Homo sapiens: one gene and its partners. The protein of the gene in region 1 interacts with the protein of each later gene in a pairwise test. Each region holds a gene or a part of one and is shown in the gene's direction. Other genes may lie near its edges.

What was found.
Region 2: the proteins of GPR161 (region 1) and COMT interact in binary tests that used the Homo sapiens proteins (3 or more experiments, as listed by UniProt).
Region 3: the proteins of GPR161 (region 1) and EFNA5 interact in binary tests that used the Homo sapiens proteins (3 or more experiments, as listed by UniProt).
Region 4: the proteins of GPR161 (region 1) and SLC30A2 interact in binary tests that used the Homo sapiens proteins (3 or more experiments, as listed by UniProt).

Annotation. Positions count from the first base shown.
Region 1 is NC_000001.11:168,091,923-168,098,959, reverse strand, and holds part of GPR161 (G-protein coupled receptor 161), read left to right. Parts: intron 1-1,727; coding exon 1,728-2,452; intron 2,453-7,037. UniProt on the Homo sapiens protein: Key negative regulator of Shh signaling, which promotes the processing of GLI3 into GLI3R during neural tube development.
Region 2 is NC_000022.11:19,965,772-19,970,512, forward strand, and holds the end of COMT (catechol O-methyltransferase), read left to right. Parts: exon of another isoform or gene 1-1,204; coding exon of another isoform or gene 1,205-1,438; intron 1,439-2,764; coding exon 2,765-2,965; 3' UTR 2,966-4,204; downstream 4,205-4,741. Other genes in the region: splicing regulator ARVCF, read right to left, coding at 1,205-1,438. UniProt on the Homo sapiens protein: Catalyzes the O-methylation, and thereby the inactivation, of catecholamine neurotransmitters and catechol hormones. Also shortens the biological half-lives of certain neuroactive drugs, like L-DOPA, alpha-methyl DOPA and isoproterenol.
Region 3 is NC_000005.10:107,376,357-107,380,937, reverse strand, and holds the end of EFNA5 (ephrin-A5 isoform 1 precursor), read left to right. Parts: 3' UTR 1-4,044; downstream 4,045-4,581. UniProt on the Homo sapiens protein: Cell surface GPI-bound ligand for Eph receptors, a family of receptor tyrosine kinases which are crucial for migration, repulsion and adhesion during neuronal, vascular and epithelial development.
Region 4 is NC_000001.11:26,043,091-26,050,900, reverse strand, and holds the start of SLC30A2 (proton-coupled zinc antiporter SLC30A2), read left to right. Parts: upstream 1-4,782; 5' UTR 4,783-5,004; coding exon 5,005-5,054; intron 5,055-5,683; coding exon 5,684-5,904; intron 5,905-6,456; coding exon 6,457-6,603; intron 6,604-7,349; coding exon 7,350-7,503; intron 7,504-7,810.

The DNA of each region.
Region 1 (7,037 bases):
AGCTCTGAGAGGTTACATCAATTAGCTGAGGTCACATAGCTAATAGACATCAGAGCCTCCATCTGAACTTGAATTTCCAGCTCCAAAGGCATGCTTTTTCCCTTGGGCTGCACGGCCTTTGCAAGATGCAAGCCCAGATAGCAGCGAAAGACAGTAATCACCTTACCCAGCCACTGTGCAGTGATTCTGTAATAGACACCCTAATCACTGCGCAATCTTCTCCTCAGGCCGCATAGCCGGAAATGCTCTCTTTCCAGGATAGATCCTGGCCTGGGCTCAAGGCTCAGCTCAGAGCAGCCCCAGGCTCACCCCTGCTTAGGAAGACCAAGGAGGCAGCACCTCCAGTTAGCATGTGGCAGTTCAGCTGCTGGGGCCCAAGGGTGACTCAGGGCGGTCCCTGTGGAGGAGCCACCTTCCCAGGCGATGTGTGAGGCACATAGCCAGAGTCATTTCCCAACGTCCTGCCAGGCGGCATCAGTGTGGCCACCCGTCCCTTACACATGTTGCCCTCATGGGAACATCCTATTTCCCTTGGATAAAATGTCGGGGTTGGGAGGGTGGTGGTTGACTTTCAGCCCTGTGGTCTGAGTCCTCCCACCCTTTCCAGTTAAAGGGCCAGTCCTTAGCTGGGCCTACAGTCCTTAGCTCTGCATGCCCCGGCCCCGTCCACCCGGCCTGCTTCCTTCTCTCCTCCTCTCTCCATCCTGCACTCTCTCTCCTGCCAGGTGGAGCTCCATGCAGCCTCCCTGCTGAGCTGGTGCTCACTCACAACTCCATACCTCGCCAGGCTAGCTTTCTGCCTGGGGTGGTCCTGGGTCAGTGCCTCCAACGCTGTGAGACCTGGGTCTGGAGCATCACCTCCAACAGGAGCCTGCTGTGACCCTCTGTGCTGGACCAGAAGCCTGCCAGTTTGAATGGATAGCCCTCCTGGCCCACCTCCTACCTAGCAGCACTGAGTGATTCGGACCCGCCCCCTTGGCTGTGGAACAAGAAGGCTTACACAGAATTGCTGGGCGTGTGCACTGGGGATTGTAGAGTCAGATCGCCTGGCTTTCTGTCTTTCTCCCATGGGTCTGGGGTGTGTTATTTAGCCTTTCCCTGCTTTAGTTTCCTCATCTGTAAAATGAAGATAATGACATATCCGCTGCTCACAGTTGCTGTGAGGACTCAATGTGGCCCTTACCACTCCAGGCCCTGATACTTGGCTCAGGTGTCTGCCTCCCTCACATCTTCTCAACTGCATTTCCAGGAGGTAGCGCGGTGCTTGGCACATCGCAAGCCTTTGGTAAATGTCCATTGGTTGAATGAAGCCCGTAGTCCTTCAACATCATTCTGGTTCTTAATGATCCCTCTGAAAATTGATGTAAATGGATGATTCTGCTGTCAGCAGCAGCAGAATTGATCTGGCCCAATGCATAATCCCTCAGGACCTCTGTAGGTATCTTAAGACTGGCCACACCCCCAAATATGAGTGGGCTGTGGTGTGATGACTTGGAAACAGGACTGTTCGAGCTCTGTGTCTTGCCAGTGTTGAGCTCTTCTCTGTTAAAGAGCTCTGCAGAGCTGTGGAACACGATGCAGTCTATATAACTTGTCTGGGGAGACTTGGGAGAAGGTGCTGCTTTTAGAAACATCCAACCCAGTCATGGGAGCCCCTGACGCAGGAAGGCAGCGGTTTTCTCTCTCCGCTGACTTCTCTCTCTTGCCTCCCTCCATCCCTTTTCTAGCTACTATGCTGTCCTGTACCCCATGGTGTACCCCATGAAGATCACAGGGAACCGGGCTGTGATGGCACTTGTCTACATCTGGCTTCACTCGCTCATCGGCTGCCTGCCACCCCTGTTTGGTTGGTCATCCGTGGAGTTTGACGAGTTCAAATGGATGTGTGTGGCTGCTTGGCACCGGGAGCCTGGCTACACGGCCTTCTGGCAGATCTGGTGTGCCCTCTTCCCCTTTCTGGTCATGCTGGTGTGCTATGGCTTCATCTTCCGCGTGGCCAGGGTCAAGGCACGCAAGGTGCACTGTGGCACAGTCGTCATCGTGGAGGAGGATGCTCAGAGGACCGGGAGGAAGAACTCCAGCACCTCCACCTCCTCTTCAGGCAGCAGGAGGAATGCCTTTCAGGGTGTGGTCTACTCGGCCAACCAGTGCAAAGCCCTCATCACCATCCTGGTGGTCCTCGGTGCCTTCATGGTCACCTGGGGCCCCTACATGGTTGTCATCGCCTCTGAGGCCCTCTGGGGGAAAAGCTCCGTCTCCCCGAGCCTGGAGACTTGGGCCACATGGCTGTCCTTTGCCAGCGCTGTCTGCCACCCCCTGATCTATGGACTCTGGAACAAGACAGTTCGCAAAGAACTACTGGGCATGTGCTTTGGGGACCGGTATTATCGGGAACCATTTGTGCAACGACAGAGGACTTCCAGGCTCTTCAGCATTTCCAACAGGATCACAGGTAACTTGGGCATTGTTAGGATAGCCCCTCCGAGGCAGATGAAATCTGTGGTCCTCTCAGCCACTCTGGCCTGTTTGTGGGTGAGTTCTCAGGCTGACTGGCGGTAAGGCTCAAAGCACAGATTTCCTTTCGGAAGAAACATTCCAGAGGCTCCGCTGTGATTGCCAGGGAGCTTCCTGTCACTCAGTAGCTCACGGCCATGCTGACAAGGCCAGCAGAGCTCCCTGGTGCCCTGGTATGTGTCCCAAAAGAATGGGACAGGGGACACCACGGTCCAGAAATCTGCTTTCTGAAACCCCAGCCCTGGCCCTCTGGCCTCAGAGTGTGTATAGTTAGTTCTCTCTCTCTTTTTTTTTTTTTTTTTTTTTTTTTTTGAGACAGGGTCTTGCTCTGTTGTCCAGCTTGGAGTGCAGTGGCACAATCTCCATTCACTGCAGCCTCTGCCTCCCTGATTCAAGTGATCCTCGTGCCTCAGCCTCCCAAGTAGCTGGGATTATAGGCACGCACCACCACACCCAACTACTTTTTATATTTTTAGTAGAGACGGGTTTCACCATATTGGCTAGGCTGGTCTCAAACTCCTGACCTCAAGTGATCCGCCCACCTCAGCCACCCAAAGTGCTGGGATTACAAGCGTGAGCCACCATGCCAGGCCTGGAGTATATTCTTTACTAGAGGAAAAAGAATCCAAGCATTGGACCAGGCCACCTTCTCCTGGCACAGCCACATCCACATCCTTTCCTTCAGTGTTTCCTCTTGTCAGCACCCCCTCCCCACCTCAGCTGCTGTCTTCCTCCTCAACCATCCTCCTCCTCCTCACAGATCAGTGATCTCCTCAGATGGTCCCAGACAATCCGGGGGTGTCCATGCCAAACCTCAGCCTTCCATCGAAGCATCATGGCCTTGTACGTGTGAGGCTGCTCCTTCCTCTGATGACTGATCCGGTGTGCACAGGTTTCCGGACACAATCCCACCACCTTTGATGGGACCCAGTGGAATTACTCTAGTTAGGGGTTAGATTTTTTGTTAAAACTTTTTATTTTGAAATAATTTTAGATTTACAGAAGACTTGGAAAAACAATACAGAGAATTCCCACACACCCAGCTTCCTCTAGGGTTACTGTCTTGAACAACCACAGCTCTAAAACGTTAACACTGGGGCAGTGCCATTAACTACAACTTGATTCAGATCTCACCCGTTTTTCATTAATGTCCTTTGTTTGTCCAAAGATCCAGCTCAGGATCCCATATTGTCTTAGTCAATCTTTGACAATCCTTTACTCTTCCCTTGTCTTTTATGACATTGACAGCTTTGTAGAGTACTTACCAGGTATTTTGTAGACTGCCCCTTAATTTGTGTTCATCTGATGCTTTCTCAAGATTAGAATGAGGTTATCCATTTTTGGCAAAAATGCCACAGGGGCGATGTGCCCTTCCTGTACATCATAGCAGGGGGCACATATGCCAATATGCCTTATTGCTAGTTGTGTTGCTCTTGATCTCTCGGTTAAGGTGGTGCCTGTCAGCTTTCTCCACAGTAAAGCTGCTGATTTTCCCATTGTAATTAATAAATACAACTGAGGAGATACTTTGAGATGATGCAAATACCCTGTTTCCTCTTTGGCCCTTTCCCACTGACTCAGGACACATTTGTGGATCTTGCCTCTAGCATTTTTACTGTGTAGTTTTGAGGTCAAGTAGCTGGATTTTTAGGGCCAAGGTGAAAGGAGACCATCACCTGGCCAAGCCACTGGGAGAGATTTGGAGAACATTCAGCTTGGACTACAGTCCTAATCTCTTGCCAGATGACTTCGGGCAACTCTTCAAACCACTCTAGTTAATTTCTCATCTTCATGAAATAGGTCTTTCTTCCACTTTTCTTCTCAAGAGGGTGAAAGAAATGACTCTAATTATGCACACCCAGTGGCAATGATGACAGGAGATCCTTTCCATGTGGCGATGAGACACAATGGCATCACTGATTTATTTCACGGGCTGATGGAGTTTTATTTCCAAGAGAGGAAGGAAGTCTGGGACTTTTAACCATAGGAGAAAACATTTCTCTGTATCTCAGTATTTTAACCACTGAAATGCTCACCCCTGCCAGTTGCAAGCCCACATTTTCACATATGACCTGTGATCCAGGAGTCCATTCAATGTTGGGCTTCATTTCACTGATTAATGTATTAGTCCAGATTTTGTAAACTCACTTGTCTTCTAGGCAAAAAAAAATAGATGTTTTCTAGATCAATGAAGTTAAAATGAAGAAGGAAAAAAAATGAGGACAGAAAATGGAGCAGGAAAGGGTTCGTAGAACAAAAAGAAACACCTGCTTTTGAGGCCAAGATTTTCCATGCAAGTCACTTGCAGGTGTCCTAGAAGAGCTGGTGAAGCTGTGAGCACAGGCGGAAAACACCAGCTGTGGTTGGTTTGGCACATCCCAGGCAGCTGGTGGTCTCATCTTCATTTAGGGAAAGCAGGCTTGTGGGATGCCTTTGGGCTGAAGAGCTTATGGAATGGGTTCCAAGTTATTGGTCTTTCCGAGGAATGGGAGCTGGGGTGGGGGTGGGGGATGGTTCTTCTTGTTCTTCCCTGAAGGTCCTGATCCCAGGAGGAGGCAGCAGCATCAGTAAGAGTCTGGGAACCAAAGCAGAATGTGGCGCCCCAGCCCAGCCGCTCACCCTGCGCTGTCCATGGCTTTCTGACTGCAGGAGAGAGCCCTGGCCTCTGCCTTGTGTCCCTGGTCCCTCTGTCTGAGCCAGGGCTGACCAGACCCTCTGTGGGCAAGGCCTTGATCTGCAGCAGATTCTGAAACCCTAATCACTTCCCCTGCCACTGGCTCACCTTAGTGTTAACTAGAGGTATGAAGGATGATCTGATCTGTCTCAGAGCCAGCAAGAAGCAACTTGGAGGCTCTTTCTTGATTCTGTTCCTCTCAATTTGTATGGGCACTTGGAAAGGTTTAACCAAAGTAAATGGAATAAGCTTTCCTAAAAGCAGTGCATATGAGCAAAGGCAGAAGCAGAATCCCACACATTTCTGGAGCTTCCCAGCTGACTTGGATGTCAGGAGTCTCCTGGGCAGTTGACAGTGTGTCCTTTATATCTAGCAGATTTCAGCCATAATCAGTGGTTCTGCTTCTCTCATTCTGTTTGTCCCAAAGTGAGGAAGTACAAAATCTTAGGCTTTCCATGGGTGCCAAATGTCGCTGGGCCACCAAATACCTTCTGCTTGTAAGGTCTCCTTAGCCAATTCCCACGGGGAAGGTCACTTAGGAATTTAGATCTCTGGACTTCCTGGAGGTTGCCACGCAGCACCACCATGTGGCAGATAGGTCAGCCCTGCATGGACATTGCTAAATGCTACCAGGTGGTCTTAGGATGGTAAAGCACCAATACAAAGCTGACTGGTGGCTACTGGCAATGGGAGCCAAGAAGAGGCTTCAGGAGAAAGTGCAGGCAGCCCCTCCACCTGCCCTTCCGCTGGCCGACCCAGAACCTTCACTCCAGCCAGGGCTGGAGAGCCCGAGCACCACCCCTCTCCCCAGCCAGGGAGGGTGGCCCAGGCAGTATCAGGGGGCACCCCCTCCAAACGCCGCCCTTACGAGACCCTTGAAGCTCCTGGGCATAGAGCCTTTCCCGTTATCTCCTGCGAAGGACACTGACTCACGTTTGTCCAGGGGAAAACACCTCGCTCCAGGTTCTTCCTTGAGAAGGCCTAGCTTGAGGGCGGGGAGGGTGACCCCAGAGCCTTTGGATTTACTCCCTTGCCTTCCTAAGTTCCTTTGCTTGGGGGCATCTAGAGGTCTTGTAGTTAGCTCAAAGTACCTGCAAATTTATCTCAGAATCACACCCCTGTTCTTTCAGCTTCTCAGAGCACTGTGACTGTTGCTCACCGCATGCCTCTGGAGAGCCACAAACCTGATTCCCCGAGCCTGTGCCTTTGTGCTTTTTTCTTGAGGGGTTGGATTGTGCTCAGCCCAGTAAATACATTGTTTCATGTGAACAATCTCAGGGTAATTGTCTCCACCCTCTGCTGGTAAATGCTGCATAAACACAGAGGAGAGGGATGCCACCTGGCTGCCCCGTTTCCAGACCTTTTAGCTGAGCCGCATTGGCCTGGCTCAGACCATTCCTCCCACTGGTGCAGACCGACATGTTCCTGGCTTTCACTGCAGCCTCAGAGATGGTGTCCAAAACCCACTGCGGCTTCAGCCATCCCAGCTGGCAGGAGATGCCCCCACAGGCTCTGCTCCCTAAGCCAGGCCTCCTGCTGAACACAGTCATGTTCTCAGGCCGAGACCTTGGGAGGATGGGCATGTGCAGGGGAAAGGATTGGGGCCTTTCTGGTCCCAGCTCCCTACAGTAACCCCCAGTCAAGAGGAAGTCCCCTTGCAAAAGCAGGATTCCCAAAAGCAGCGAGAGGGAAGTTCTGAGAGAAGCCTGCTGTGACCACCCCGCCTTCCCACACCATGTCCTCCTTGGCTCCAGGGAAGAAAGGAGAAAGTGCATTCTATTGCCTTGTAACCTCTGAAGAATTAGGGTAGAATGAAGGAACAGGTCTCCTCCTATCTGTGAGTGTATCA
Region 2 (4,741 bases), on another chromosome or scaffold:
CCTGGCCGTGGAGAGGGAGGACCTGTAGTGGCCAAGGGGGTGGGCATTGGGAGGGTGGGAGGGAGACCTACAGGCCAAGACAGGGTAGCTGGAGGGGGGCTCACCCCTGACAAAGGAGCATGATGCTGGCAATTGGGTATTGATGGCAGAGAGCTGGCACTCAGCCAGATGGGCTTCACTTGGGCAGGAAAGACACCCACAGCTGGGCCTGCGTTACTGCGGCCGAGTTTCAGCAGCTGTGATGTGGGTGCTAATTACAGGGGCCTGCCTTCATAGAAAAGTAGCAAACATTGCAGTTTAGTAACTAGGAAACTAATAGTTTTCTCAGTGCTGCTTGCGCAAAGCTGGTAATTATCTCAAAAGAAGCAAAGTCATGAAGTGGGAAGTCATGAATTGGGAATGGGTGTCCTTGTTAAACGCACATCTGCACACTCAGGGCTGGGGCCCTGTGCCCCCTTGTGGAGGGTTAGGGGACAACCTGGCTCTTGTGAGGGTCTAGCCATCCCCTCAGTGGGTTCTGTGAGCATCGGAGGCACGAGGGGTGAGGGGCTCAGGAGCAGGTTGCAATTCAAAATCAAGGGCTGCTTTGAGGAGGCCTCTCCACCGGGCTGCTGTAGTCACCAAGTCCAGCCCATGCCCAAAGGAAGAGGAATGAGTTCCCCCTTAAAAAAAAAAAAAAAAAAAGAAAAAGACAGAGTCTTGCTCTGTGCCCAGGCTGGAGTGCAGTGATGACATCATAGCTCACTGTAGCCTCAAACTCCTGAGCTCCAGTGATCCTCCCACCTCAGCCTCCTGAGTAGCTAGGACTAAAGGCATGCACCACTACACCTGGCTAATTTAAAAATTTTTTGTAGAAATGGGGTCTCCCTATGTTGCCCAGACTGGTCTCAAACTCCTGGCCTCAAGCGATCCTCTTGCCTCAACCTCCCAAAGTGCTGGGAGTACAGGTGTGTGCTTGGTCTGAGGCTCCAACTTTTTGTTGTTGTTTCTCGAGACAGTCTCTCGCTCTGTCGCCCAGGCTGGAGTGCAGTGGCGCGATCTTGGCTCCCTGCAACCTCTGTGAGGCTCCAACTCTTGAAGGGAGGAGAGTCTAAGGAGGGTGGGCCAGATGAAAACCACCTCAGCATAGTGTCACCTGCTCCTCTGACACTGTCGCTTCTCCACGGCATTAGATTTTCAGTCCTGCTCAGACGCTGATGCATGTTTAGCCAGTTCTCCAGGTGGTCTGAGTAGCTGGTAGGAGGCTTGCAGTGTCGGGCGACAGGCAGGACAGGTGCTGCCTTCTTTCCCCTCTTGACCAGTTTCGTAAAGGAGTGGGCCCCTGGCAGCCTCCAAAGGTGACCCATGCTCCTTTCTGCCCTTCCCTCCTTCTTTCCTGTTTAACTCGTGCAGGTGCAGTGGTCTGGTGTCTTTCAGTCCGCTGACGTCTTCTGTATCCCTGATGACCAGATTGGGCTCCTGAGTCCCCTGGCGCAACCCGAGAAGTCCAGGAGCCCAGGCCCCTCACTCATGCATTCCCTGGCCCAGACTGGAAGGCAGCCGCCCTGCTCAAGGCCTAGGCCATTGTCCTCCTCCCGGGTGGCGCTTTGTTCTACGTCTTTTCAGCTGACATTGCTAGGACATTTTTTTTTTTTTCTAAATGAAAACACATCATGATTCATGGTGGTACTTCCTGCTCAACTCCGGACCTTGGGGCTGTCCCCTGACCTCACTGACCTTGCAGCCGTGTGGTGTCCATACTGTCACATGAAAGCCCCCTGCTTTCTCTGCAGCATACAGGCTGGAAACGACCGCCACCCACCACCAGGACAGCTGCAAGCCCTGTGGGACTCTCCAGGCCCATCCCAGAGGCATGTGGGGTCGGATACCAGTGTTTCAAGGCACCTGCCTGCAAATTGATTTTATTATACTTTAGATGTTTGAGATTGCTTGTTAACTTTTGTTTGGTGACTAAGTCAAATTTCCAAGACAAGGTGACTGGGGTGTCCCTTGCCCTGGTAGGTCCTTCCTCCCCATAGGCAAACACTTCCTCTCAAGGTTTCTTGTTTATGTGATGTAAGCAAACCCTTTTCTGATAGCATAGATAGGCAAGCATCCTATGAGGTTTCTCCCGATAGTGGACCCCACGGGCCATGCCCTATGGCTGCGTGTCCAGTAACAACTCCTTCCTTCTGCACAGAACCCAGGCAGAGGAACTCTGTGTCCTCCCAGGGCCCAGGCACTGGTGAAGATGGGGGGTCTGCAAATGCAGGAGCTTGGGGATGTCCAGAACTGACCCCAAGGGGCAGGCTTGTTGATGGGAGGTCTGCCCCACCTCAGCCCTGCAGGGTCACCCTGGTCAGGCCAATATTGTCTCCAGGGACCATACCAGCAACCCCTCTCCTTGGGTGCCTCTCCCTCATAGGCCTGAGTTCCTGGCACTGGGTGTTGAGGGCCCCATTGTTTCCACTCACCCAGCTAGCATTTATTGAGCACCTACTGTGTGCCACATGCTGTTCTAAGGGATGGATACTCCTGAGATGGATACAGGAGTTGATGAGAGAAAGGTCCCTGTCCTCACGGGGCCCATGTTCTGAAGGTGGCACCCAAGTCTTGTACAGTCCTTTCCTGCAGGAGTCACGCTGGGCAGAAAGTGGAAACCTGGCCCCAGGGGCTAGGCACAGGCGTGGTGCCGTGGCCTAGTGAGGAGCACCCATCCTGGTTTGGGGCAGGTTCTCTGGGCACCTCTGACCCTCACCTCCCCCACCCCCCGGTCTGTTTGCAGGAATGTGGCCTGCTGCGGAAGGGGACAGTGCTACTGGCTGACAACGTGATCTGCCCAGGTGCGCCAGACTTCCTAGCACACGTGCGCGGGAGCAGCTGCTTTGAGTGCACACACTACCAATCGTTCCTGGAATACAGGGAGGTGGTGGACGGCCTGGAGAAGGCCATCTACAAGGGCCCAGGCAGCGAAGCAGGGCCCTGACTGCCCCCCCGGCCCCCCTCTCGGGCTCTCTCACCCAGCCTGGTACTGAAGGTGCCAGACGTGCTCCTGCTGACCTTCTGCGGCTCCGGGCTGTGTCCTAAATGCAAAGCACACCTCGGCCGAGGCCTGCGCCCTGACATGCTAACCTCTCTGAACTGCAACACTGGATTGTTCTTTTTTAAGACTCAATCATGACTTCTTTACTAACACTGGCTAGCTATATTATCTTATATACTAATATCATGTTTTAAAAATATAAAATAGAAATTAAGAATCTAAATATTTAGATATAACTCGACTTAGTACATCCTTCTCAACTGCCATTCCCCTGCTGCCCTTGACTTGGGCACCAAACATTCAAAGCTCCCCTTGACGGACGCTAACGCTAAGGGCGGGGCCCCTAGCTGGCTGGGTTCTGGGTGGCACGCCTGGCCCACTGGCCTCCCAGCCACAGTGGTGCAGAGGTCAGCCCTCCTGCAGCTAGGCCAGGGGCACCTGTTAGCCCCATGGGGACGACTGCCGGCCTGGGAAACGAAGAGGAGTCAGCCAGCATTCACACCTTTCTGACCAAGCAGGCGCTGGGGACAGGTGGACCCCGCAGCAGCACCAGCCCCTCTGGGCCCCATGTGGCACAGAGTGGAAGCATCTCCTTCCCTACTCCCCACTGGGCCTTGCTTACAGAAGAGGCAATGGCTCAGACCAGCTCCCGCATCCCTGTAGTTGCCTCCCTGGCCCATGAGTGAGGATGCAGTGCTGGTTTCTGCCCACCTACACCTAGAGCTGTCCCCATCTCCTCCAAGGGGTCAGACTGCTAGCCACCTCAGAGGCTCCAAGGGCCCAGTTCCCAGGCCCAGGACAGGAATCAACCCTGTGCTAGCTGAGTTCACCTGCACCGAGACCAGCCCCTAGCCAAGATTCTACTCCTGGGCTCAAGGCCTGGCTAGCCCCCAGCCAGCCCACTCCTATGGATAGACAGACCAGTGAGCCCAAGTGGACAAGTTTGGGGCCACCCAGGGACCAGAAACAGAGCCTCTGCAGGACACAGCAGATGGGCACCTGGGACCACCTCCACCCAGGGCCCTGCCCCAGACGCGCAGAGGCCCGACACAAGGGAGAAGCCAGCCACTTGTGCCAGACCTGAGTGGCAGAAAGCAAAAAGTTCCTTTGCTGCTTTAATTTTTAAATTTTCTTACAAAAATTTAGGTGTTTACCAATAGTCTTATTTTGGCTTATTTTTAATGCTTTTTCTCAGTGTTTTTCTTCTGTTTCTGAGTCACGAACAGCAGGCACTGAAAGCAGTCCCCCAGCCACTGCCGAAGGTCAGTCCCGGAGGTGCTGCCCAGGCTCCAGGCAGATGCGGCAGCCCCGGCCCCAGCCAGCATGGGCTGGAGAAAGGCTCTCTACTGCACAGGGGCCTCACGTGACTGCAGGGCTCTGGGGAGGTGGGGCACCTGTAGCCTGACCCCCACCTTGCTGCTTCCAAAGCTTCCTTGCCCAGGGCTGGGCCTTGTGGGGCACCCCCCACACCGTGGTCTGCCTGCCTGCAGGGTGCCCAGGGAGACCCTCCGCCTTTAGAAGTCCAAGTTCTTTCCCAGCCCCCTCCCTGCCTAGCTGCCTGCCCCTGGCGCCAGACCTGGCCCGCACCACTGGGGCACTGTGTTCCCAGGGGCACCCTCCTATCCCACCAGCCCCAAAGCCCAGCCAGGCACCCTTCCCTGCCACCTCCCTGGGCCCTGCCCCAGCAGCCCAGTCGGCCTCCTCGGGCCTTCTGTCACT
Region 3 (4,581 bases), on another chromosome or scaffold:
TTCTCCTCTAAGAACTCACCTCCGTTAGCGCACTGTGTCAGCGGGCTATGGACAAGGAAGAATAGTGGCAGATGCAGCCAGCGCTGGCTAGGGCTGGGAGGGTTTTGCTCTCCTATGCAATATTTATGCCTTCTCATTCAGAACTGTAAGATGATCGCGCAGGGCATCATGTCACCATGTCAGGTCCGGAGGGGAGGTATTAAGAATAGATACGATATTACACCATTTCCTATAGGAGTATGTAAATGAACAGGCTTCTAAAAGGTTGAGACACTGGTTTTTTTTTTTAATATGACTGTCTTAAAGCATTCTTGACAGCAAAACTTGTGCTCTCTAAAAGAAGCCTTTTTTTTTTTTCTAGGAGGCAGGTTGGGTGTGGAATGCTAATACAGAGCAGGTGTGAAAACAGAGAAAACTACAGGTTTGCTGGGGGTGTGTATGTGTGAGTGCCTCTAATTTTTTTGGTGACTGGGCAGTGCACACCAGATATTTTTTCTTTGAATACAGATCACCATGGTGCTACAACTTTTTTTTTTTTTTTTTTTTTTTTTTTTTTTTTTTTTAAGAAACTCAAAGAGGCATTTTTATGAATAAAGTGACCTTCCCCAAGGCTGACAAGCCAGGGTTGATGAGTGCATAGTGGAATAGCTTTGGATACTCCTCTGGGGGATGACATGTACCAAGGAGAGGACCGCAGTGGCCAGAGGAGACATGATTTGGCTTTGCTGGAGCGCCAGTGTGCTGTGGCCTTTCCCCGCCTCCCACCCTAGTACCCACGTTTTGCTCCACACTCCTTGACCGCAGGGGCTCGGACACAAACCCCTGTCACCAGGAGAGTCAGTCAGCACTACTTGGGAGGGCTAAAGGGAAATTTGGAAATAAAATTCCAAAGTTTGGAGTAAAAAAATTCAAGTGTTGATTTTATATTCTTTCCCTTTCTGACACAGCCTAAAGCGTAGGGGGAACATGTGTTTATCTGTGGGAGATAAACAAGATGGAGTCCCAAAGACTTTAACAAAATATTTTTTTAAAAATCCACTAGAATAGAAAATACATTATTTAGATATACTTTATGCTGAGAGTGAGTATATATGCTTGTCCTATTTAAACTTGTGAGAAAAAGTGGTATCCCTTGATACATTTAGAAATATGGGGGCTATCTTGTTTCATTGTGGGGGTGGGGCAGAAGGAGAATAAATGCAGGATGACCCTGTTGAAGGAATCTTAGCATGGCCAACAGGGGACGTTTCCAGTCGATTACCAGGAAATGCAAGCCTTGGGGTTTCTACTGGTGGTGGGGCTGTCATGAACTTTAAAATCCAAAGCCTAGACAAGGAAAAGTGTTAGACCAATTGAAAAGCAATCCAGCCCTTTTTTTTTTTTTTTTTTTGGCTTTGCACGACATGTCAACAGAAACCATGCCTTTCAATATAAGAAATAAATGTGATGATCATGTAAAATGTGAAAAATTGAAAGCATTCCAGCAAAATAAGAATTTTTTATATATTTGTTTTTTAAGATGTATATGTTAAAAAAAGAGAAGGTCGCATTATGGACAGACTTCGTGAATGGGAATTTGCTTAGAATTGTGAGTAGTTCTGAATTAGAAAAGTATGTGAAGGAAAGGCAGCTGTAAACGTATTGTGCCCTGGAGAGTTGTACACATGTTGAAATGTAATCTGGGCTTACCTGATCCATTTGGAGTGGATGTCACTGCCGAGTCTGTTCTCACATGGAACCATGTGTGTGGGGTTGCCAGCCTCACAGATACAATCAATCCTATTCCCCTCTGACATAAGGAACTCCTCTGGAGTGGCAGAGTCTTATCACAGAAGGCAGCCACCATTTCACCAAAACAAAAGTTCACGGCATTCAATTCCTTTTTCCTTTAGCTATTTATATATGCAGTACTCTCAGTCATATGCAGAAATACTTTTTTTTTTTTAATTAATAGTTACAGGCTTGTTGGTCCAGTGGGATTTGGGTAGGGGGAGAAAGATACCTTCTAAAATGGATCAATAGAACCAAAATAATACAGCATGTTCTATAACCACAAGGAAATCAAATGATCCTGTCATGATTCCAGTTAGTCATAACTATGTTAGCAGTGCTAAATGCATTTTAGAAATGGTGACTTCTGTGGTTTTCCTAGCATTTGTCTCTAACAAATGGTGAAATAATTACTCATGGCCCTCTCTGCCATTGTCTTTCATTTTTTCACAGTGAAATTAGACCCCTTTACTTCACCATTCTGCCACTGCAAATTAAGTATAAAGAAAATAGCAAGAGTGTCCACACCAGTAGACAGTAAGCTTCTCTACCTGTAAGTGATGAAATCATAGCTAATGCACTTGCCATGGAGTTTTCAAGATGATTGGTGTCAGACAGTTTTCACTTTGTTTAAAAAGTGTTGGTGGCCTTTTGTGGTGGTGTTACAATCCTCTGGGGGCTTAGGAGGATGTTGATGCAACTTTTAGAAGCTTTTAATTTCAAAAACAACTCAAAAATCTGAAGGACAGTCATAGCTGCCACTCAGCCCCAGTTAGTCAAACCCCAGTGACCTTTGCCCCTGGTTGCCAAGGGCTTTGCAACATCAAGCAGGGAAATAAGGATCTGTCTGTTTAGTGGATACCGTGTATCCTTTAATAGACCAGGTAACAGTTCGTGTTAGTTTAGACTATTGTTTTGTACTGTACTTTCTTGGGTGGCAGAGGAAAGAAAAGTAAAACATTAAAAAAAAAAAAAAAACTGCGTTCTTTAAATTCTGTATTATTAGCAACCTCTGTTGTACATAGTGTTTGATAATAAAGTATTAATTTGATTCTTATGTCTTTTGTAAGTGAGAACAATAGACTTTCAGGATACAAAACATGCATTGAGGCTTTGAAACATCCAATGTGTACCATGGCTGAAAAAAAGAGTCACAAGTGGCTGAGACACTGCTCCATACAGGACTCATGTGTGGTCATTGCCCACCCAATCTTATGACTCCATCATCTTGGGACCTGGAACAACATGACTTTTTTGATCGATATTTTGTCCTCGGTGTTTTCAAGGTCTGATGTTGGAGCCCTGTGGCCCACCCTCCCTTCTCCACCAGCATGTTGGTTTGAAAAGGATAGGGAATTTAGAAACAGTTCTGTACTTTGGTTTGGTTTGGTTTTCTGTTTGTGATTGTTTTCATGGACTGTTTTATTTTTTCCCAGGAAGAGTCTTTATCAATATCATGTGCAGCTCACTCATGGAAATGGTTGCAAACCAATCAGTGTAGGAAGCTTAAATGGGGCTGTTTCCCTCTCTGTGTCGTTGTGAAAGGAAGAGTCACACAGTACCTGTGGATTTTCAGGGACTCTGTTTTTCTCCGGTGCCTTAGCAACGGCAGCAGCCATTTGTATTATTTTCAAATAATTAGAAAAACAGTTTTCAACTCCTCCTTTCCATTCATTGCTCTCAGAGTTGTGGTCACTGACTTTTCTTTTGAAAACCGCCTCCACCAACACCCCCGTTTGCCTACACCACCCCCCTTTTACTTAGTATGTTTATTTTTTGTGTGTCTCTTGCCTTCCTCCCACGTTTTATTTCCCCTCAGAGCTGTGAATGGGCAGGTCTGTCTCTGGTTTGGCATCACTGAGTTTTTCCCATGCATTGGCCCCAGGGCTGCTAGGATGTGAGACAAATCTCCCTACAATGGGCTTGCTCCCATTGTCTGTACAGTTTAATAGATGCTGGCATGTCGGAGGTTACCCATGAGTCAAAATCCGCTCTCCATGCTTACTCTTGACACCCCATTGAAGCCACTCATTGTGTGTGCGTCTGGGTGTGAAGTCCAGCTCCGTGTGGTCCTGTGCTTGTACTGCCCTGCTTTGCAGTTCCTTTGCACTTACTCATCGAGTGCTGTTTTGAAATGCTGACATTATATAAACGTAAAAGAAAATGTAAAAAAAAAAAACCCACACACAAACAAACCCATACGATCTGTATTTGTATATACACGTGTCCGTACAAGTATAACTAAATAAAAATTAAAGATTTTCATCATTTTAATTGGATCCCTCCTTCTACTTGTTTGTTCCTTGAATGATGCCTTTATTTCAGGGGCTACTTGTACTCTGCTGATTTTTCAAAATCTTTGTGGACAGAAAAGATAATACAACATGCACAAGAGAAGGCCTGGGAAGCTCAAAGAATGCAGAGTTAGAAATGGCCAAGTATCTGGGCGCATTCCAGTTATTCTGATGAGAGAATAGTGAGATTTCAGCCTAGTCTCTGTATTTGAGCCTTAAAATAGGCACTATGACAAGCCCTGCATCCTAAAACGACTGTTAAATACAACAGGAGCCAAATACAAATTGTATTCTTTTACTTTAGACATAGTTTTTTCACCCCATCAAGAAAAAGACCAAATAAGCATTTTCCCAGCAAATATACTGGAAGAAGAAAAGAATAACAGTAATGATAATCATAATCTCTTCAGTACTGCCCAAAGCCTCAATTCTCACAATCAAGGAAGAATTAACTTACTACTGTGTGACCTTAGGCAAGTCACACGATATCTTTGGGACTCAGTTTCCTTATCTGTAA
Region 4 (7,810 bases), about 140 Mb from region 1:
TCAGGAGTTCCAGACCAGCCCGACCAACATGGTGAAGCCCCGTCTCTACTAAAAATACAAAATTAGTTGGGCGTGGTGGCGCATGCCTGCAATCCTAGCTACTTGGGAGGCTGAGGCATGAGAATTGCTTGAACCCAGGAGGCGGAGGTTGTAGTGAGCCAAGATCGCACCACTGCACTCCAGCCTGGGCAACAAGAGTGAAACTCCGTCTCAAAAAAAAAAAAAAAAAAAAAAGAGGCAGATTAATAGGAGAAAAGGCAAACAAATACACAAATTTATTTGACCATGGTTTTATGAGATACAAGAACCTTCAGAATGAACACCCAAAGATACAGGAGAAACTGTCCATTTTTAGGCTTCAGTTCAACAAAGTATGGATGGCCGTGTAGAAATACGGTTGGACAAAAGAGCCTGATCTAATGCTGATAGACTGAGTGGGGAACCCAGCGAGGCCTGTCTGTCAAGATTCTTTTCGGCCTCTCTGCGCAGCATTCCTTCCTTCCTCATATGGCGCAGGACTCTCTCTGGATGGGGGTCTTCTGACCTACAATCAGACAAAGGTCAAATAATTTCCTATGGCCAATTTTACACAGAAAGAAAGAGGAAAGTTAGAGTAATATTTTTAGGTTTTAGGGCAGGCTTTTGGTGAAGAGGGATTGTAGTTTTTATAGCTAGCCTTGGGGGAGAATAAGGGACCAGAGACAGGAGGGCAGGAGAAGGTCAGAGAGAAATGTTTGCTTCCGAGGGAGGCCTTCATTTCGGGGTATTGTTTTCTGAGACCCTATGAGGCACACTCCCAAGGCCAACAGAGGGAAGGAAAATGGAAGCGAGGCAGGCAAGGAGGGAAGCAAGTACAAGGTGTCACGTGGCTGAGCTGGCCACAGCTTCACCAAAGACTGGGCTGGCTGCTTAGTCATGTGAGATGTTTCCAGCAGGCCATAAAGAACAGAACATGATTCAAAGTCCTTCATCTAGAGAAGAAAAAAAAAAAGAAATGTGTCTGCTGGCTCCTTCCTGTCTCCCGCCTCCCATACTGTTCATTCCACCTTGACTTCAGGTGGTGCAGGTGCAGGGGCAGCAAGGTCACCTGCCCCATTGGGTGGTACTTCAGCTGAGTCTGGAGATGGTGGGAGGTGCCAGGGCCTCCATGGTCCAGTTGGGTTGGACAAGGGTGGGGCAGCTGCTGTCTCCACCTCAGTGAACACAATGGGGCCAGGCTGGTGCCCAGACTCACGCCAGGAAAGGCCAAGTCAGCCACCGGCAGTAGGGGATGAATTCATGACTGTGGCCCAGTAGCATCCAGGATCTCCATGAGCAAGAAGCCAAGGGCCTGGAGAGAGGCAAGGCTGAGCGAATCCGAGGCAGCGCATTCACCGGGGCTGATACACCAGAGACTTACAACTTTGAGGAGCATTGCAGAGCCTGTTCCCCCTTTTAGACATTCAGATCACAGTAGCAAATTAAGGGGTCCGAGTCGTCCCACCGTAAAGAAAGCGAATTAACTTTAGATGAGGACCATCAAGTTCATGGTGCTTGGAATGCTGCCTGACCCTAAGTCTTTCATTTTGTGTGTGTGGACTGAATTTCCCAACTTATTCATATGACATCCTCCGGAACTAGAGTTATGTGGAACTTGCTTTAGGACAGTGCTCAAAAACCCTCACAACCTCTGCCCATTTTCACTTCTGGGAGTTTGGTAGGTTTTCTAAGGCTAACTCAGTTCCTAACTTTGAATTTCAAAGAATCAGATTTTGCTCTCATTTCCAGTCCTTTCTCAAGTTCTGAAGCATTTTGTTTTAGTTTTTAAAACACGGTGTAATACACACACACACACCCTTAAAAGTGCACAAAACTCATCGTAGAGTTTAATAACCTATTGTAAAATGAAACCTTATGTTACTACCACTCAGGTGAAAAAAAAAAAAGAACATTGCCAGCCCTCAGAAGCCCTCCATGTGCCCCTCTACCACATCACAGCTCCTCTTTCTGATTGGGGCAGCGGAAAGAGGAGCGGTCAATTTTTTTGTTTTTTTGACAATCACATACTTGTTTTTCTTTATGGTTTGGTCTCCTAAAGTATCCTCCCATAGAAAACTGAAGGGATTTGAGTCCAGAAGGAGAAATTTGAGGCCAGAAAGAGAGAGGTTTTCATCACCTTGAAATCACAAGAATCAGTATTATAACGTGTGTATGTTCTGTTACTTCTCCAGGCTACTGATCATGTAAGCAGCAAGCATTTCAGCCCCGTATCTTGTCACTTATGGAAGAGAAGAGAGAGCAGTTGAGACTTTGGGTAATCAGTTAAAGATTAAATTCCAGGAAGATACCTGTTAATTGCAACTAAGGGGATCTTTCCTTTGCCATAGGAAGGGCTCTTCCTGTACTTGCAAACTAGAACCCTTAAGATGGTATGAAGGGTTCTTGATCAACATGCTTCCTTTAAAATCATGCTGCAAGAGAGGACAGCTGGCTTCAAGGGGGTTCTTTCAATGAATCTTGAATACAGCTCCATGGGCTGCTACATCAGAATTGCCAGGAAAGGTTTATTTTTCCCCAAGTCTTTAATTCTGAAACTTTTTTTTTTTTTTTTTTTAGACAGAGTTTCACTCTTGATTGCCCACGCTGGAGTGCAATGGCATGATCTCGGCTCACTGCAACCTCTACCTCCCGGGTTCAAGTGATTCTCCTGCCTCAGAATTCTGAGTAGCTGGGATTACAGGCGCCTGCCACCATGCCTGGCTAATTTTCTTATTTTTAGTAGAGACGAGGTTTTGCCATGTTGACCAGGCTGGTCTCGAACTCTTGACCTCAGGTGATCCGCCTGCCTCAGCCTCCCAAAGTGCTGGGATTATAGGCGTGAGCCGCCGCACCCAGCCAACATTTTTTAAATACTGAAAAGTAGAGGGAATAGTTATAGTGTACCCCATTTACCCATCACTCAGTTTCAACAGCTGGTGACATATTTATTTCTTCTATACCAGTACCGTACTCTCCCCACTGGGATTATTTTAAGGCAAAACCCAGATGACATTTTATCCCTAAATACTTTAGATAAAGGTGTTCTTTGAAAAAAATCATAACCTCAGGACCAGCCTGGCCAACATGGTGAAACCCTGTCTGTACTAAAAATACAAAAATTAGCTTGGCATGGTCGTGGGCACCTGTAATCCCAGCTACTCAGGAAGCTGAGGCAGGAGAATCACTTGAATCCGGGAAGCAGAGATTGCAGTGAGCTGAGATTGCAGTCGAGCCTGGGCGACAGAGACAGAAATGAAACTCTGTCTCAAAAACAAACAAACAAAAAAACCACTATACATAAAAATGAACAATGATGCCACAATAGCACCAGAGAATTTTATAAATACAGATTCCCAGGCCCTGCCCCAGACCTACTGAATCCTGGAAATATTCAGGCTCCACACCCAGAGATTCTGGTTCGGTTGGTCTGATGCAGGGACCTGTAACCTGCGTTGTAACACCTTCTCCAGGTAATGCTGAGCCTGCTGGTGCTCAGAGTAGACAGACCTGGAGAAAACCAGGGTGTCTGAGGTTTTCCAGAAGAAAACCAGAGTCCAGAGAAGCAGAGAGGCACTCAGTGAGGACCCAAGCAGAGCGGGTGCACCTCACATCCTCACTCCTGGCACCCCGTCTCCTACAAGATGAGAGACTGAAAGAGCCCCTTCCTGTCCCCAGTGGTGTGGGCAAGAGGCCTGCACCTCTGACTCTTGGCTCTGTGAAAGGCCATACCCACCAAGCCTATGGTCCTAGCGACAAAGGGTGCTGGGGAGACGAATTGACCAGACAGGGAGGTCTCCAGCAGCTTCTTTCTACACAGAGGGCACCTGTCAGAGGCCAGCGTGGGGGCCACAGGCTCCCCAATCCCCAAGAACCGCCAGGGAAGGAGGCTGCTTCAAGTGGGTGGGGCACCAAGCTGGCCAGGAAGGACAGGGCTTCTCCCAGCGGTACCAACACGGTGGCACCTCCGGCCTGCATCTCCCAGGCTTGCTTGTCAGGCTTCCTGGGGCTCCCAGGAGCCGCTGCGGGGGAGGGGAGAAGGGGTGGCAGCAGTGGCAGTGGTCGTCTCTGCTCCGATGGTGACTGCCGATGACACTGTTCTCTGTGCGGGTGGAGACAAAGCCGGCCACTCCAGATTCTCCTGCGCGCAGGAGAGGAGGAGCTGGCGCTGCTTCAGTGGCGAGGATGGGTCGATCAGTCCCAGCCGGTCCTAGGGAGAGACACTGCCCCAGCCTGAGGGCGGCGCAGCCCACCCCACCCCAGGACCCTCCTAGCAGGAGGACAGGAACGCAAGCCGACCTCGGGGGGTCTCCGGCCTGAGAGGGGAACATGATCAAGCCCAGGGCAGCCGCCAGTCGGAGGGGGCAGACGCGGCCCCAGTAGCCTCTGGAGACCCTCTTCCGAGGCAAGGAGCCACATTCCTGCCGTCGGGACCACCAAAGCGGATTTCTACAAACTAAAGTCGAGAACTTTTCGGCGGCGAGGCGGCGCACCCCGCGCGGGAGAGGGGGCGCAGGCGTCACCCCGTCCTCACTCAGCAACACCCGGCGCCGCGCCGGGCGAAGGCTGGCAAACTTCTCGCGGCCGGCAGGTGGGCTCCGCGGGCCCCATGGGCGCAGGCACAGGTGTGCGGGGCCACAGCCGGGCCTTTTGCAGCCGGCGACCGCCCCCCCTTCCCCGCGGGCTTTTGCACACGACGCGCCGACGGCAGCTTCACACGGGTTGGCGAGGGCCGGATAAAGCCGGCGGCCGCGGGGCGCAGCGGCTGACCCGAGACACGGGAGCGCTTGGCACGCGGAGCCAGAGCCGGAGCTGCAGCCGCAGCGGGAGCCGGGGGAGCTCAGGGGCCGCAGGAGCCGGGCCGGAGTGAGCGCACCTCGCGGGGCCCTCGGGGCAGGTGGGTGAGCGCCACCCGGAGTCCCGCGCGCAACTTTCAGGGCGCACTCGGCGGGGCGGCTGCGCGGCTGCCGGGACTCGGCGCGGGACTGCATGGAGGCCAAGGAGAAGCAGCATCTGTTGGACGCCAGGCCGGCAATCCGGTAAGGCGAGAGCCTGGGGACGGGCGGGAATTTTGGCGGCAGCCGACGCACCTCCGCATTTGCCATCCTAGCAGTGGTTGGTTTTGGCTGCGGCTTGAGCTGGGACCATGCAGGAGGGGTGGGGTGAGGTGAGGGAACGAAGATAATGGGCTGTGGCCCAAGGACCGTCTCTCCCTTGGGGCGCAGCCCAGATTCTGACCCCTGCCCGCGGGGGGCCTGGGGCCGGGGGATTGGCGGTTCCCATGCCTGGAGTCCCGCCCCGCCCAGCACTTTGCCCCAGGCAGCCCCGCCCCGGGGAGGCCCTGTGTCCCAAGTGCGCTGGAGGGGGCCTGCTGTTCTCCCAGAGCCTGCGCTCTGTTCCTTCCCCGCGCTCCACTGGACAGCACGCCCCTTGGCCGGTTCCCAGGGTCTTCACCTCCTCTGGCCTCTGAAGGGCCCCGGGCCCCAGGACTCCCATTCCCCTATCATCCCCGTCTGAATACAGGCTTCTCACCTCTGGTTTGTCGAGCTCGGAGCGTCCTTAGCTATTTTTCCCAGTGGACACAAGGCCTCACAGAGAAATGGGACTAGAGTCGGCCCTCCTTACCTCATCTCAGAGCTGAGCGTTCCCTCTCTTCCCCTCTGGCCAGGTCATACACGGGATCTCTGTGGCAGGAAGGGGCTGGCTGGATTCCTCTGCCCCGACCTGGCCTGGACTTGCAGGCCATTGAGCTGGCTGCCCAGAGCAACCATCACTGCCATGCTCAGAAGGGTCCTGACAGTCACTGTGACCCCAAGAAGGGGAAGGCCCAGCGCCAGCTGTATGTAGCCTCTGCCATCTGCCTGTTGTTCATGATCGGAGAAGTCGTTGGTAAGCACTTTTGGGCTAATTAAATGAAGTTGGTGCATGGATAGACTGGATGTTCCCAGCAATACTGACACTAAAAGCCCCAATTACTGAACACACACTACAGTAAGCCTTTATATACACATTATCTGATGCAGGTCTAACAACAACCTGTGTTCTCACATGGGTGACGTTATTCTCCTTACTTTACAGATGATGAAACTGAGGCATGTTCAGGTGAAGTAACTTGCCAAAGATCACGCACAACTCGTAGCTAAGGGAAGGCCTGAATTCCTAGAAGGGAAGAGCATTTACTGAGTATCTGCTATGTTTTCCAGTCCCTATTTGAACTTGATGTGCACATTCACCCTCTAAGTAGATATTGGTGGCCCATTTCACAGAGAGTGGAAGTTGAGGCTCAGAGAGAGTAGGTCACTTGTCACGGTGGTACAGCTCATGGGTAGAGAGATCTTGAGCCCAGAATGTCCTCTTCCAGAGCCTGTGGTCTCCCTGCTGCACACACAGTCTTGGGAGCCAGCTCTCTGGGGGAGCTGATAAGGACCCTCCACCCTGCAGGTGGGTACCTGGCACACAGCTTGGCTGTCATGACTGACGCAGCACACCTGCTCACTGACTTTGCCAGCATGCTCATCAGCCTCTTCTCCCTCTGGATGTCCTCCCGGCCAGCCACCAAGACCATGAACTTTGGCTGGCAGAGAGCTGGTGAGGATCGCGGTTTGGCTGGAGATGGGGTTGAGAGAGAGGGTGGGTTAGAACAGGGGTTCTTAGGTGGCTGTAATGGGTGGATCCCCCCTTCCTCCCCTGAGTGAGGCCAGGAGGGTGATCTGGATGGGGGAAGAGGATGTCAACCATGGCCTCTGTCCTCTGGGAAATCCTAGTCTGATGGGGGAGCCCTGGTCCCAGTCATCCAGGAGCTCTCAGTCTGCAGGGAAGCAAAGTTGACCTTCCTAAGAAGTGCAGTAGCCAAGCTTCAAGAACAAATGACAATGGCATTAACACTGCACATAACTCTGTGGATCAGCTCTGGGGGGAGGGGAAGGCCAGCAAAGGCTGCTGGAAGATATAGGCTTTAACCTCTCTTCCGTTCACCCTGGACTGCATCGTCACCTTCCTCTTTGTGGGAGATGGCCCAGCCTGTCTTCCCCAGAAGCCTCAGTTTACTAGCTGAACAAAAGGCACATACTTTAATAAGTCAGCTTCTTTACATGTACAACCAAAAAGGTGGACTCAGATGATGACTTATTAGTTCCTTCTAGCTCTTACATTCCTAGATATATGAGGGGTGGGGTAAGGGGCAGCCATACCGGCCATACCTTCAGCAGAGCCCAGTGGGACCCAGGCCCTGACTTTGTGTGGGAGGTGGGTGGGGAGGATCCTGAAGGAAGGGGGAAGACTCCTTAGCTCCAGGCCCATGCCAAGGTGGGTGTTGGGGTTGGGTTCTTCCTCAGAGATCTTGGGAGCCCTGGTCTCTGTACTGTCCATCTGGGTCGTGACGGGGGTACTGGTGTACCTGGCTGTGGAGCGGCTGATCTCTGGGGACTATGAAATTGACGGGGGGACCATGCTGATCACGTCGGGCTGCGCTGTGGCTGTGAACATCATGTGAGTGGGGCCCCAGTTTCCCTCGTCTCCCCTCCTCCTCCCGCCTCTCACACCCACACCTATGTCTGCTTTGCGGAAAGAGACTGTGCCACTTTCCAGCATACGCTACAGGGACAGAACTTCCCTAATGGTCTGAGCTCTGGCACCTGGAACACCTGGGTCCTACCTTAGGCCTAGGCCAAGAACACTGGGAGCTGTAAATCGGAGTCTTCATCCACTCTACCCACTCCCTGATACATGTCAGGGACTAGCCTTGGTGGCTTCATACCTGAAGTGGGGCGGGAAGAGGCCAGTTGTTGCAGGAGTA